4 linked regions of the Homo sapiens genome follow. The protein of the gene in region 4 purifies or fractionates together with the protein of the main gene of each other region. This does not show direct contact. Each region holds a gene or a part of one and is shown on either strand. Other genes may lie near its edges.

Region 1 (3,500 bases), on a different chromosome or scaffold from region 4:
TACTTTTATGAATATTTTGCAGTATTTGTCTTTTTTTGTTTTGCCTATTTCACTTAGCATAGTATTCTCTAGGCTCATCTATGTTGTCATAATTGGTATGATTTTCTTTTTTTTATTGAGATGGAGTCTCAAATGTAGTCAGGTGTTGGTATTCTTGGGTGGTCCTGGAACCAATCCCCCAAGGATATCAAGGAACATTCTAAATACATATGAATAATTCTGATAAGTTATCCAATTTGCCTACAATTCTAGATCCTGAACCCAACTGATTCTCATTACAGAAAAATGATGTCACTTCACAGAATGTAAAAGCAGTTGTAGTATATTTTATAGTGGCTTACATTTATCAACATCTGTAGCATTCCACAGAACCAAGATGTTAAATCCAACACCTGGCCCATCTCAATCTTCCTTTTATTTCTAAGAACAGAAAAACTACTACTTACCATTCAGAAATCTCTTGCTTCAATTGAGGAACTTCACTAAGTGCTGAATCAGTATCCATGAAACCAAGAAAGTCTCGTTTTATATTAAGGGAAGTCTTCTCCAAACCCTTGCCTGATGTTTCATGACCCCTTGACAAAGGATCCAAATCACCTGGTTGTATCTCTGACCCCTGACCTTCTGTAAGACGGACCCGATGACCAGAAGAACTGGAAATATTATTCCCTTCTTGGTCAGAGCTGTTCTTTTGTTTTCCATCTCTCTGGGGCTTATTATTCAGCCCATCATCCCGAAAGCCTTTGGCAAATGGATTGTAATCTATTTTCAGCTGAGTAATCTGAATGTTCTGATAAGCTGTTACTGCAAAGAATTCAGTCTGTGGGAAGGTAAAAGTGTGGACACCAGGGCCATTTAATTGTATCACCTCCACAGCCTTTTCTGCAGGCACCAAATGAAGCCTCGGCAGGTAACGATGCATAGAGTGCAAGATGATATGCCCTTCTTGGTCCAGTGTATTGTTGGTAAGTTTGAGTTTATAGAAAGATACTGGTTGATGCATCCAATAATGACCTGTGGAAGGAGATTCTGGATGAATGAAAACCCTCCCCAAAACATGAGGTTCAGCCTTCCCACTAGGTTCCCACCAACGACCATTCCACTTATAACGATGGTTATCCACAGGAGATATATCCATGACAAGAATATACTTCAAATTTGAATCTAAACCTGTTATCCAATAACGACAGTAAGGAAACATGCGTCTTCCTTGCTTGGTCAGAATCATCTCTGTGCTTCGATGATAGAACTCATTCCACATACTATTGTTATCGAGGGTAACAGTGATTCCACCCACAGTACAATCAGCTGGAAGGCAAATCTTCCCTTTAGATTTTACTGGTGATGACACACTACTAGCCAAAGCACAGGCATCCTGATTAGTAACCAAAATTCCTTGATCAGTTTTGCCATTTCCTGGCTGCTTTAAGATGACAAAGAAGGTAGGTGCTGCTCCTGCCACTGTTCCACCATCTTGATTAGCCAATATAATCTGCTGTTTCTCCTCCATGATTTCAGTAGGAAACTCAGTAGTAAGACAACTGTAATCACCACATAGTCACAATGGCCTTCCCATCCTAAGAAACAAGCAAAAAAAAACCAAAAACAAAAAACACCCTTTAATCAAGTGAGTATTTATTTCTTGAACAAAAATACAAGAACGATTATGTTATCCCCAAAATATTCCTAAATTCTTCTAAGACTTTGCTTCTAAGCTTTTCTTTCAATCACAGTAAGAATATTTACTCTGGAATATCTAATCATTTTTTAAAGTTCATTTTAATCTAATTAGTTAAGGTGCTTATATCCTAATCCTCTAACAATTCACTATAAATACTATAATCTCACACAAAGAAACAAAAGAGTATATTCATTATTAAAAAAGTATACAAAATTAAAAAGTTAAATTTGAAGGTTATGCATTTTTAAAGCATCCTAACACTTTATGAATTTACCAGAAGATTCCTTTATATAGCAAGTTCCCCAGTGATGAGTAAATTAAATAAGTAAAGTTCCATTTTCATCCCAAAGAGCTAATTGTACAGAATTAGTTCTTCATATGGTTCAGAAGACATGGTTCCATAAATAAGTAAAAAGCTATCTAACTTCTTAGTACACACGTTTAAAGAAGCCATGACAAATCACTGGAACTCAATGGACCTTACACTGAAATAAATTCCAGATGACTCTAATATTTAATTTTTTTATTCCTAAATCCTGAGAAAAGTTTTTTGATAAGACACAAAATCTAAAACCAGTAAGGCCAAAAAAAAAAAAAGTGATAAATTTAATACTATATGATGCCAGGTGTGGTGGCTCACACCTGCAATCCCAGCACTTTGAGAGGCTGAGGCCAGTGGATCATTTAAAGCCAGGAATTCGAGACTAGCCTGGCCAACATGGCGAAACCCCATCTCTATTAAAAATTAAAAAATTAGCCTGGTGTGGTGGTGCACGCCTGTAGTCCCAGCTACTCAGGAGGCTGAGGCATGAGAATCACTTGATCCTAGGAGGCAGAAGGTGCACTGAGCCAAGATCACGCCACTGCACTCCAGCCTGGGTGACAGGGAAAGACTCCGTCTCAAAGAAATAAAAATAAAATAAAATTTAATATTCTGTAAATTTTTTAATCTGGCAAAATCATTTAAGCAAAATCAAAAAGCAAACTAACCAGGAAAAGGTATTTGCAACTTATAAAGAACTCCTTTCCCTAATATAAAAAGGGGGCTGGACATGGTGACTCACACCTATAATCCCAGCACTTTGGGAGGCCAAGGCAGGAGGATTGCTTGAAGTCAGGAGTCCCAGACCAGCCTGTCCAACGTAGTGAAAGTCCGTCTCTATTAAAAAATAATAGCGGCGGGGGAGCAGTGGCTCACGCCTGTAATCCAAGCACTCTGGGAGGCCAAGGAGGTCAGATCACTTGAGGTCAGGAGCTCAAGACCAGCCTGGCCAACATGGTGAAACCCTGTCTCTACTAAAAATAAAAAAATTAGCTAGGCATGGTGGTGTGCGCCCATAATCCCAGGTACTCGGGAGGCTAAGACAAGAGAATTGCTTGAACCCAGGAGGTGGAGTTGCAGCGAGCCAAGATGGCACCACTGCACTTCAGCCTGGGTGACAGAGCGAGACTCTGACTCAAAAAAAAAAATAAAAATACATTAACAGTAATAATAATTTTTAAAGGCTTCCTACAAATCAACAAGACCAAATACCTAACAGAAAAATGAGTAAAGGATAATAAACGCAAATGGCTATGAATATGTACATAGTTAAGAGGAAAGCAAATTAAAGTCATCTTGAGATACTGTTTTTTTACTTATCAGACTGGCAAAAATCAAAGCCTGGTAGTGCTGGAAAGGGTTAGGTCAACCAGCATTCTCCCCTAAGCAGTTACTGGGAGTATAAAATAATAGAATCTCTAAGAGAGGGCAACTTGAAAATATCAAAAGTACAAATCCATATATCATCCTATGACAAAGAATTGTTCCCAGGACTTT
Region 2 (3,500 bases), on a different chromosome or scaffold from region 4:
AAATTAGCACATGAAAAGATACTCAACATTATCAGTCATCAGGGAAAGGCAAATGAAAACCACAATGACACGTACCAGTGTACACCCACAGAATGGCAAACAATGGTGGTGGTTTTAAGGGTATACATGTATTTCAAAACTTATCAAATTGTACACTTCAAATATGTACAGCTCACTGTATGCCAACTGTACCTCTACAGACCTGTTCAAAAAACAAAAAAAAAAGAAAGAATCACAAGACCAAGTATTGGTGAGGACATTTGGAAGGGCTAGGATTCAAACTCTAATGCAAGATTTCTCAGCCTCAGAACTAATGACATTTTGAGCTGGGGAACTCTTAGATTAGGATGCTGTCCCATGCATTTTAGGATGTGTAGCAGTATATCTGGCCTCTACTCACTAGGTGCTCCAAGTTGTAACAACCCAAAATGTCTCCAGACATTCTCAAATGTCCCTTAGGAGGCAAAACCCCCTTAGTTGAGAACCACCCCTTAGTCTGACACCACAGCCCAAGCTCTTAAAAACATCTTTCTTTCCACTTCTGGCACTATCTTGGTTCAGGTCCTGAATTTAGTTCACCCAAGACCTCATTATTAGTCAGTCTACATCTAGGCTGTCATCTCTTGTCATTTCAATAGTCACACTACCAACAAATTAACCTTCTAAACCTTCAGGGCTTAGATAAATGACTGCAGAAACTGCCCTCACTACCACTATGCAGAATTCCTATAAACCCTTTGTATGTACTGTGTAAACCTTTGTATATATACAAAGTCATTACACTGTCTCATATTTCAGTGTCTGTCTTCCCATTAATACATGAGATTTTCCCCAACAACGGCCACCTCACTCATATCTATATCCCTAGAACCCAGAACTAGAAAGCATTCAAATGTTTCTTAAACAAATTACATACAACAACAAAATGCCCGGATCTCTTTGCTTTAAATATGTAACAACAACAACAACAACAAAAGCCCCCAAATCATACAGTAAAGCTTTCATCAATGTGAATCCTATCCAAACAAATGGATCTTGTTCCTAATAGGACCAGAAAGGATTCTCCAACTCATAACCCAAACATCATTAACAGACATATTGGACTCTTCAGAATTTTCCAAAAGCACATAGAGACCAAGTTTCCTAATCTTTTTTGTGTGTGTGTGAGATGGAGTTTCGCTCTTGTTGCCCAGGCTAGAGTGCAATGGCACGATCTCGGCTCTCTGCAACCTCCGCCTCCCAGTTTCCAGCGATTCTCCTGCCTCAGCCTCCTGAGTAGCTGGGATTACAGGCATGCGCCACCACGCCAGGCTAATTTTGTATTTTTAGTAGAGACGGGGTTTCTCCATGTTGGTCAGGCTGGTCTTGAACTTCCAGCCTTAGGTGATCCGCCCGCCTCAGCCTCCCAAAATGCTGAGATTACAGGCATGAGCCACCACGCCCGGCCAGTTTCCTAATCTTAAAACTCCTTTCAGTCCATTGCAGTTTTTCAGGGGCATTAAATAGTATCACATTATTTTGGACAACCAAACCCATCCCACACTAACTCCTCTTGCCACCAATTCATTTATTGGTTCACTAGTTTTACTGAGCTCCCCCTTAGTACCTTATAAGGGTGCAAAGATGAACTATGATAAGGAAATAAAAGTTTTAAGGGGAAAAAGATACAAAGAAATAATAATGCATGAGGTTCTTATCTCAAACTGTCTTTGTTTTTCTTAAACTGTCTTACAGTTTGGTCTGCACTAGAAATGTTCTCAAAAGATAACTCAGCCACTAACTAACACCTATCAAAAAGAATTATTTAACATCAATATCCTAAAATAAAAATCATAATTTTAGGCCAGGCACGATGGCTCACGCCTGTAATCCCAGCACTTTGGGAGGCCAAGGCAGGCGGATCAATTGAGGCCAGGAGTTCGAGATCAGCCTAGCCACCATGGGGAAACCCCGCCTCTACTAAAAACAGAAAAAATTAGCTGGGCATGGTGGTGCGCCCCTGTAATCTCAGGTATTCAGGAGGCAGAGGCACAAGAACCACTTGAACCCAGGAGGCAGAGGTTGCTGTGAACCGAGATAGCATGACTGCACTCCGGTCTGGGAAACAGAGTGAGACTCCATCTCAAAACTAAATAAAAATTTTTAAAATCCTAATTCTGGGCTGGGCATGGTGGCTCATGCCTGTAATCCCAGCACTTTGGGAGGCCAAGGCGGACGGATCACCGGAGGTCAGGAATTCAAGACCAGCCTAACGAACATGGAGAAACCCCATCTCTACTAAAAATACAAAATTAGCTGGGTGTGGTGGCGCATGTCTGTAATCCCAGCTACTCAGGAGGCTGAGGCAGGAGGATCACTTGAACCCAGGAGGCAGAGGCTGCAGTGAGCCGAGATCACACCATTGCACTCCAGCCTGGTCAACAAGCAAAACTCCATCTCAAACAAAAAAAAAAAAAACAAAAAAAAAACCATAATTCTGTCAACTGTTTTCTAAAATGTACTACATATGTAATATAACTGTCAACAACTCTACATAGCAGACCCGTTCAATCAGTTACTCAAGGCTACATTCAACAATTAACTTACCTTTTTTTTTTTTTTTGAGACAGGTTTTCACTGTTGCCCAGGCTGGAGTGCAGTGGTGCAATCATGGCTCACTGCAGCCTCCACCTCCCAGTCTCAGCTGATCCTCCCACCTCAGCCTCCCAACTAGCTGGGACTACAGGTGTGTACCACCACACCTGGCTAATTTTCGTATTTTTGGTAGAGATGAGGTTTCACCATGTTGCCCAGACTGGTCTTGAACTCCTGGGCTCACACCATTCATCTGCCTCAATTAATTCATCTTGAAGTGTTTACCAGGAATTTATATCATTTGATATTCAGAATTTCTATAGCCACAGTATAAAACTGATACTAATACCTTTCTTTTTTTTTTTTTTTTTTTTTTGAGATGGAGTCTCGCTTTGTCGCCCAGGCTGGAGTGCAATGGCGTGGTCTCAGCTCACTGCAACCTCTGCCTCCCAGGTTGAAGCGATTCTCCCGCCCCAGCCTCCTGAGTAGCTAGGATTACAGCTGCCTGCCACCACGCCCGGCTAATTTTTGTACTTTTAGTAGAGACGGGGTTTCGCTACATTGGCCAGACTGGTCTCAAACTCCTGACCTCGTGATCTGCCAGCCTGGGCCTCCCAAAGTGCTGGGATTACAGGTGTGAGCCAGCATGCCCGGCAACTAATACCACTTTTTTTTTTTTTTTTTGAGACGAAGTCTTGCTCTGTCACCCAGGCTAGAGTGCAGCGATCTCGGCTCACTGCAACCTTCTCCCAGGTTCAAGTGATTCTCCTGCCTCAGCCTCGCAAGTAACTGGGATTACAGGCATGCGCCATTGTGCCTGACTAATTTTTGTATTTTTTAGAGATGGGGTTTCACCATCTTGGTCAGGCTGGTCTTGAACTCCTGACCTTGTGATCCACCCGCCTCGGCCTCCCAAAGTGCTGGGA
Region 3 (3,500 bases), on a different chromosome or scaffold from region 4:
AGGCTGGTCTCAAACTCCTGACTTCAGGTGATCCACCCACCTTGGCTTCCCAAAGTGCTGGGACTACAGGTGTGAGCCACCACGCCCAGCCTGATTTTTATTTTTACAGTTTATCTCATTCTTTGGAACAAGAGCACTTTTAAAGCTCATTGGAACCTCCGAGTCCCGCACACCGGGTTGGGGAGCGGAGAAAGTATCCAACGGCGGCTGAAGAAATCTGATTCACCTGCAGTTTCTAGAAGCCTTCTATTTCCTGCTTAGCAACAGGGTGGGAGACTCTTCACCCAGTTATGTTTATAGTCTCCTTGTTCAGTCCAGACGGTCACCTTCCTCGTGTGTCTCGTATATCAGATGCAGTCACACAGCACACTGGCAGGAAATGCACATCAGACATCTTCCAGGCTGTGTCTCTGTGGCTTTTGTTAAAGCTACCAGAGATGTATTGGAACACATTTAGAATTTTTCCTTAGAGACAAGGGCAGATATCCTAACCCAAACTGAAAGCTGAGCTGTCAGGCTCCAGACGTGTGGGAAGCCCATATTGGATGAGAGGTGGTCCTCATGCAGTGTTAGGAGCGGGCACCTGTGGAGCTGGGCAGGTGAGCGTTTTTTTTTTTTATTTTGAGACAGTCTCGCTCTGTTGCCCATGCTGGAGTGCAGCGGCGTGATCTCGGCTCCCTGCAACCTCCACCTCCCAGGTTCGAGCGATTCTCCTGCCTCGGTCTCCCAAGAAGCTGGGATTACAGGCACGTGCCTTCATGCCCAGCTAATTTTTGTATTTTTAGTAGAGACGGGGTTTCACCATGTTGGCCAGGCTGGTCTCGAACTCCTGACCTCAAGTAATCCGCCTGCCTCGGCTTCCCAAAGTGCTGGGATTACAGGTGGGAGCCTGCGCCTGGCTGAGCATGTTTAACATTGAACTTCAGATTACGTAATGACTGAGTGTCCCAGGCCACTGCCAAGTCTTTGGAATGAGGAACGTAGTGATGAAGTGTTACTTCCTTAAAGAATTTGAAACAAGGCTGGGCGTAGTGGCTCGCCCCCATAATCCCACACTTTGGGAGGCCAAAGTGGGAGGATTTCTTGAGCCCAGGAGTTTGAGACAAGCCTGGGCAACGTAGTGTCTCTACTAAAAAGAAAAAGAATTCCTGGGCTGGTTGCAATGGGTCATGCCTGTAATCCTAGCACTTTGGGAGGCTGAGGTGGACAGATTGCTTGAGCGCAGGAGTTAAAGATCAGTCTGGGCAACATAGTGAGACTCCATCTCTACAAAAATTAGCCAGGTGTGGTGACAGGTGCCTGTGGTCCCAGCTACTCGGGAGGCTGAGGCAGGAGGACTGATTTGAGCCCAGGACGGAGGTTGCAGTGAGCCAAGATAGCATTGCTGCACTCCCTCCAGCCTGGGCACTAGAATGAGACTCTATCTCCAAATAAATAAATAATGTTTTTTTGTTTTGTTTTTCAGACAGAGTCTTGCTCTGTCACCCAGGCTGCAGTGCCGTGGCGTGATCTTGAACTGCCTTGTGGGTTTAAGCGATCCTTGTGCCTCAGACTCCTGAGTAGCTGGGACTATAGGTGTGCGCCACCACATTCAGCTAATTTTTTTGTATTTTTGGTAGACTTGGGGTTTCACCTTCTTGGCCAGGCTGGTCTCAAACTTCTGGCCTCAAGCAATTTGTCTGCCTCAGCCTCCCAAAGTGCTGGGATTATAGGTGTGAGCCCCCTCAGCCCAGCAGGATTGTGTTTTAAATGAATCTTATATTGAATTTCCCACAAGTACCAGGACACAGGGCTAATTCTTAACATTTTTCTCATGATGGAAGGAAGCATAATGGATTATGAAAATCACTTCTGTGGCTGGGTGCTGGGGCTCATGCCTATAATTCCAACACTTTGGGAGGCTAAGGCAGAAGGATTGTTTGAGGCCACGTGTTCAAGACCAGCCTGGGCAACACAGCAAAACCCCATCTCTAGGAAAATTACAAAAATAGCTGGGTATAGTGGTGTGTGCTTATAGCCCCTGCTACTCAGGAGCCTGAGGTGGGAGGATCACTTGAGCCTGGGAGGTCGAGGCTGCAGCCAGCTATGACTGCACCACTGCACTCCACCATGGGCAACAGAGTAGACTTTGTCTCAAGAAAAATAAAATCACTTCTGTGTAAAGTTGTTGACTGGAGGCTCCTCCTGGAGCTGGTCTCTGAATTCTTATTTATTCATTTATTTTTTTAACTGAGTCTCAGTTGCCCAGGCTGGAGTGCAGTGGTGTGACCTCAGCTCACTGCACCCTACGTCTCCTGGTTCAAGTGATTCTCCTGCCCCAGCCTCCTGAGTAGCTGGGACTACGGGTACCCTCCACCACGCCTGGCTAATTTTTTTTTTTTTTTTTATTAAATGGAGTCTCACTCTGTCACTGATGCTGGAGTGCAGTGGCACCGTGTTGGCTCACTGCAACCTCCGTCTCCTGGTTTCAAGCAATTCTTCTGCCTCAGCCTCCCCAGTAGCTGGGATTACAGGCGCCCACCATGCCTGGCTAGTTTTTTTTAAAAATATTTTTAGTAGAGATGGGGTTTCACCATCTTGGCCAGGCTGGTCTCGAACTCCTGACCTCAGGTGATCCACTTGCCTCGGCCTCCCAAAGTGCTGGGATTACAGGCGTGAACCACCGCGCGCAGCCAATTTTTGTATTTTTAGTAGAGACAGGGTTTCACCCTGTTGACCAGGCTGGTCTCAAACTCCTGACCTCAGGTGATCTACCCACCTCAGCCTCCCAAAGTGCTGGAATTACAGGCGTGAGCCACCATGCCTAGCCTTGGTCCCTCAATTCTGTTCATCCCGTCCAGGCCGTGCTGTCCTCCATGCTGTGAACCGAGCTTCCTCCTGGGAGTTGGAGGGAGGGCCACCTGTCACTTGCCACACTGTCTTGTAGGATCAGGAGCGTCTGGGCAAGCAGCTCAAGTTACGTGCAGAAAGGGAAGAAAAGGAGAAGCTGAAAGAGGAGGCCAAGCGGGCCAAGGAGGAGGCCAAGAAGAAGAAGGAGGAAGAGAAGGAGCTTAAGGAAAAGGAGAGGCGGGAGAAGCGGGAGAAGGATGAGAAGGAGAAGGCGGAGAAGCAGCGGCTCAAGGAGGAGCGGCGCAAGGAGAGACAGGAAGCCCTGGAGTGAGTGTCCTTGGAGGCCATGCTGGGCCCGCCACCCTGCTGCTGGATTCCGCTCCTGGCCACTCTGATGGGGCCTTTCCACTTCACAGGCAGATGGCGGCTCCCTTCAGTTCCTTCCCATTTCTCCTTCGTGAGGTGCCCGTGGGGCCCTGACGTGGGAGCGGTGGAAAGCAGCTCCCTGCTCTTTAGTGCTCCCCCACGTCCAACTCACCCTGGACCCCTTGTCTCTGCTGTGACCATCCTTCCAGTTCCCAACCAACTTAGGCATTTGCATTGCAGGATTGTGGGTTTTGTCTGTGCTAATTGTGCTCTGACTGGCTAAAGTTTTTTATATATATTCTAGT
Region 4 (3,500 bases):
AGCCTTTACTGACTCAGGAGATACAGGGGCAGGTTTCTGTGGTTCTGGAGAAGGAACAGGGGCAAGTTTCTGAGACTCACAAACAGGGACTGATTTTGGAGGTTCAGGAGAAGAAACAGAGGCAGGTTTTGAAGGCTCAGGAGAAGGAAGAGGTGTCTGTAGCTCAGGAGAAACAACAGAGCCAGGTTTCTGAGGCTCCAGGGGAGTAAGAGGAGTAGGTTTTGGCGATTCTGGAGACAAAACTGAACCAAGTTTCTGTGTTTCCATTGAAAGGGCAGGTATGGATTTTGGTTCTGCTGAATTGCAGGGTATTTTCTGGTGTTCAGGAAGAGGAGGGCTTTTCACAGGATCTGTTTCTTTGTTCAACTGATTTTTTGGTTTATCATTCCATTTGTCTGGGGATGCATGTTTGGATGTGATGTGATAGTATACATTAGAGTACATCTTGCTGGTGAAGAAGCATTTATGGCAGTGAAATAACTTTGCACTTTTCTGGTAAAATATCATTTTGCCTAGCCCACCAGCATCCATTTCATCACAAAATTCTGGATGGATGGTACCCATATGGATTTGTACATTTTCATAGTCTGTGCCTCTGAAACTGCAATGGTCACACTCCAAACGTGCTGATGGTTTACGAAGTTCCTGGAATGCTTCCATTCTTCTGTCTGTTACCAACACACACGGTTATATTCTTTAAAAACTTTCAATACTGCTGCAATAAAGTAGGAATAAATTATTTTCATGAACTGTAATTCTGAATAAAATGCTGTCAGTCCATTCTATAACTGCATAATTTTAAGTCTAGAACAGTGCGTGCTTTATTTGATAGTATCTCTAGGGAGAATTTGAAGAAAAAGGAGATATAGAACAGTCCCAGGCACTCTGCTAGGAGTTTCACATACATCATCTCATTTAATCCTAATGATATGACTCAACTATTATTTTCACTTACAGATGAAGAAACAGGTTCAGAGAAGTTACCTGACTTTCTCTGGTCCAGGCTATAGGACTATCAGTGATGTGAGCCTGACTCTAGAATTAGCTATTGCATGTGCTTTATACTTTGACTCTCAAACTCCGAGTACAAAAGTCCTCAGCACACAAAGATGAGTGAATATCAAAATTAAATCTTGGCTATTTAAGGATGAACAAGAGACTAAAACTTTTGCAGAAAGCACTTAATAAATTAAATCTAGCTATAAAAAGATGACTTTAAAACATGATGCTGGCTTGATTTCATGTCAACATATTTTGTAATGTTTAATCTATCCCAATATAGTATTCTATTAATTCATTTAATAAATAAATAACTTTGTGTCCTACAATGTTCTAGGCACTTAGGCTTAAAGCAGTGCTTTGCAATATGGCGTTCATGAGTTGGAAAGATAAGGTGGAGAGTGATGTAGAGGCCGTTGGAAAAGACCTCTATGCATGGGACATTCCAGCAGAGATCCTGAATGATGTGAAGGCGCATACCAACCAAAGGGCAAATCAGAGGACACCCCAGCAGCTGGAACACAGTTGCCGGAAAACATGAATTTAAAAAAATTGTAAACCAGTCTTCTTAAGTAGTAAAGGGAATAGAAGCTCACAGTTAAAAACACATTCACACAGTACGAGATACAGAGTGTCAGTCCCTAGGGGTAGCCAGTGTACTCATGTGTCCTGGAAGAAATGTCCTAAGCATATATTGATCAACACACATGCTTTACACAAATGGGATATTAAACATATTATCTGGCAACTTACTCTCATTTAGAATTTATCTCTAAGACATTTTTACATATGGAATAAGCACTGACTTTCCCTGTACTTATCTGTGCATGTGAGGGTATTTCTGCAGGGAAAATTCCTAGCAATGGATTACTTGGCCATTTGTGTGTAAAATTGATACATTTTACCAAACTCTCAAAAACTTCTATTACTGCATAACAACGTGTATATATGAGAGACAATTTCCTATAAATTCCTAATCCTTGCTACAACCTAGGTGAAAGCTAGTATTTCACTATTGTGTTAATGTGCTTCTCTTTAATGAGAAAGACTGAACACCTTCCCTTATTGACGGTAATGATATTTACTCCTCCTCAAAGAACAGTACAGATTAGAAATGCAGGCTCTCCCTTTATTAATTACAAAACCATTATTTTAAAAAAATGTATAGGCTGGGCGCAGTGGCTCATGCCTGTAATCTCAGCACTTTGGGAGGCCGGGCAGGCAGATCACGAGGTCGGGAGATCAAGACCATCATGGCCAACATGGTGAAACCCCATCTCTACTAAAAATACAAAAATTAGCCAGGCGTGGTGGCGTGTGCCTGTAGTCCCAGCTACTTGGGAGGCTGAGGCAGGCCAATCGCTTGGACCAGAAGTCGGAGGTTGCAGAGAGCTGAGATCATGCCGCTGCATTCCAGCCTGGTGACAGAGCAAGACTCCATCTCAAAAAAAAAAAAAAAAAAAAAAATTAACATTTCTAACTTTGATAATTTGTTTTTAAAGATGTTCTCACTGGCAATACTGCTTCCTAACACTTTTATCCAAGGTATATCATTTGCCTTTTTTATTTTTTGATCTAAAGCTAAAAAGGTGACAGATACTTGAGGAAACAAATACTTTTCTTCGGAAACTATTTACTCTTTCTGAGTTGCCCAGCAGTTATCCTGTATTTTAGAAAACTGTTTTGGGGCCAGGACTGTAACAAAAGAAAAATAAATAATTCCGTACTGATGAAAAATCTCTGAAAATGATCTTTAACTTACAAACGTAATTGAATGCATGGAAAAATAATGGGTTAACCATCCGTCTCAGAGCCCATTGTTAAATAAAACTAGAAGACTTTAGGGGAAAACGTAGGATATGTCTCAATAATCCCATGAGGCAATAATGAACAGCCCAACTGGCAATAATGAACAGCCAAGCTAATATTAAAGAGCACTATATTACATATTGTAATTACAACAGAGACTAAGAGCTCAGGTGTGCTGGGTTTGAGTCTGACTCACCTACCATTCCCCATTCCTCCCAGCCATCCCTCCTCTTCCCGCTGCCTACCACCAGCTCTTCAGGCCAATCTCATACTTAAATCTACAAAGAATGCTACAGAATTCACTTCTCATATCCCAAATTATGTATATCTAGCACACAACACACATTATATCCATAAGGGCGTGTACACTTTTAGAGATTTTCCTCAAGAACTCCAGGTATTTTTTTTTAATTTTCTCCTCATAAAATATTCTCCTAAGCATGCTTTCCCTACTAGACTTACCTGCTGTCTTACTAGACACCTTAAAAGTGGTCTTCAAAAGGCAGGCATTCTACATGGCTTTTTGACTAAACCACAGCAAACAGCCTATAGTATATGAAGAAGAACAAAGATGAGAAGTTGAACCTGGAAAAAAAAAAAAAAAAAAAGAAAAGTAATCAAAACTATATCTGTGATCGTGTGTGCCCCCTGTAATGGAATTCTGTGTATTTCTCTCACCATCCTGCCCTAAC

The links. Proteins that work in one complex are often made in the same cells at the same time.
Region 1: the proteins of CHAMP1 (region 4) and MGA purify together in Homo sapiens (affinity purification with mass spectrometry, with the first as the bait; one large-scale study listed by BioGRID). This does not show direct contact.
Region 2: the proteins of CHAMP1 (region 4) and SCAI purify together in Homo sapiens (affinity purification with mass spectrometry, with the first as the bait; one large-scale study listed by BioGRID). This does not show direct contact.
Region 3: the proteins of CHAMP1 (region 4) and CHAF1A purify together in Homo sapiens (affinity purification with mass spectrometry, with the first as the bait; one large-scale study listed by BioGRID). This does not show direct contact.

What each region holds. Positions count from the first base shown.
Region 1 is NC_000015.10:41,666,905-41,670,404, reverse strand, and holds part of MGA (MAX gene-associated protein), read right to left. Parts: intron 1,578-3,500; 5' UTR 1,511-1,577; coding exon 447-1,510; intron 1-446. UniProt on the Homo sapiens protein: Functions as a dual-specificity transcription factor, regulating the expression of both MAX-network and T-box family target genes. Functions as a repressor or an activator.
Region 2 is NC_000009.12:125,133,529-125,137,028, forward strand, and holds part of SCAI (protein SCAI), read right to left. Parts: intron 1-3,500. UniProt on the Homo sapiens protein: Tumor suppressor which functions to suppress MRTFA-induced SRF transcriptional activity. May function in the RHOA-DIAPH1 signal transduction pathway and regulate cell migration through transcriptional regulation of ITGB1.
Region 3 is NC_000019.10:4,419,640-4,423,139, forward strand, and holds part of CHAF1A (chromatin assembly factor 1 subunit A), read left to right. Parts: intron 1-2,926; coding exon 2,927-3,156; intron 3,157-3,500. UniProt on the Homo sapiens protein: Acts as a component of the histone chaperone complex chromatin assembly factor 1 (CAF-1), which assembles histone octamers onto DNA during replication and repair.
Region 4 is NC_000013.11:114,321,003-114,324,502, reverse strand, and holds part of CHAMP1 (chromosome alignment-maintaining phosphoprotein 1), read right to left. Parts: intron 3,394-3,500; 5' UTR 3,271-3,393; intron 2,441-3,270; exon of another isoform or gene 716-2,440; 5' UTR 661-715; coding exon 1-660. UniProt on the Homo sapiens protein: Required for proper alignment of chromosomes at metaphase and their accurate segregation during mitosis. Involved in the maintenance of spindle microtubules attachment to the kinetochore during sister chromatid biorientation.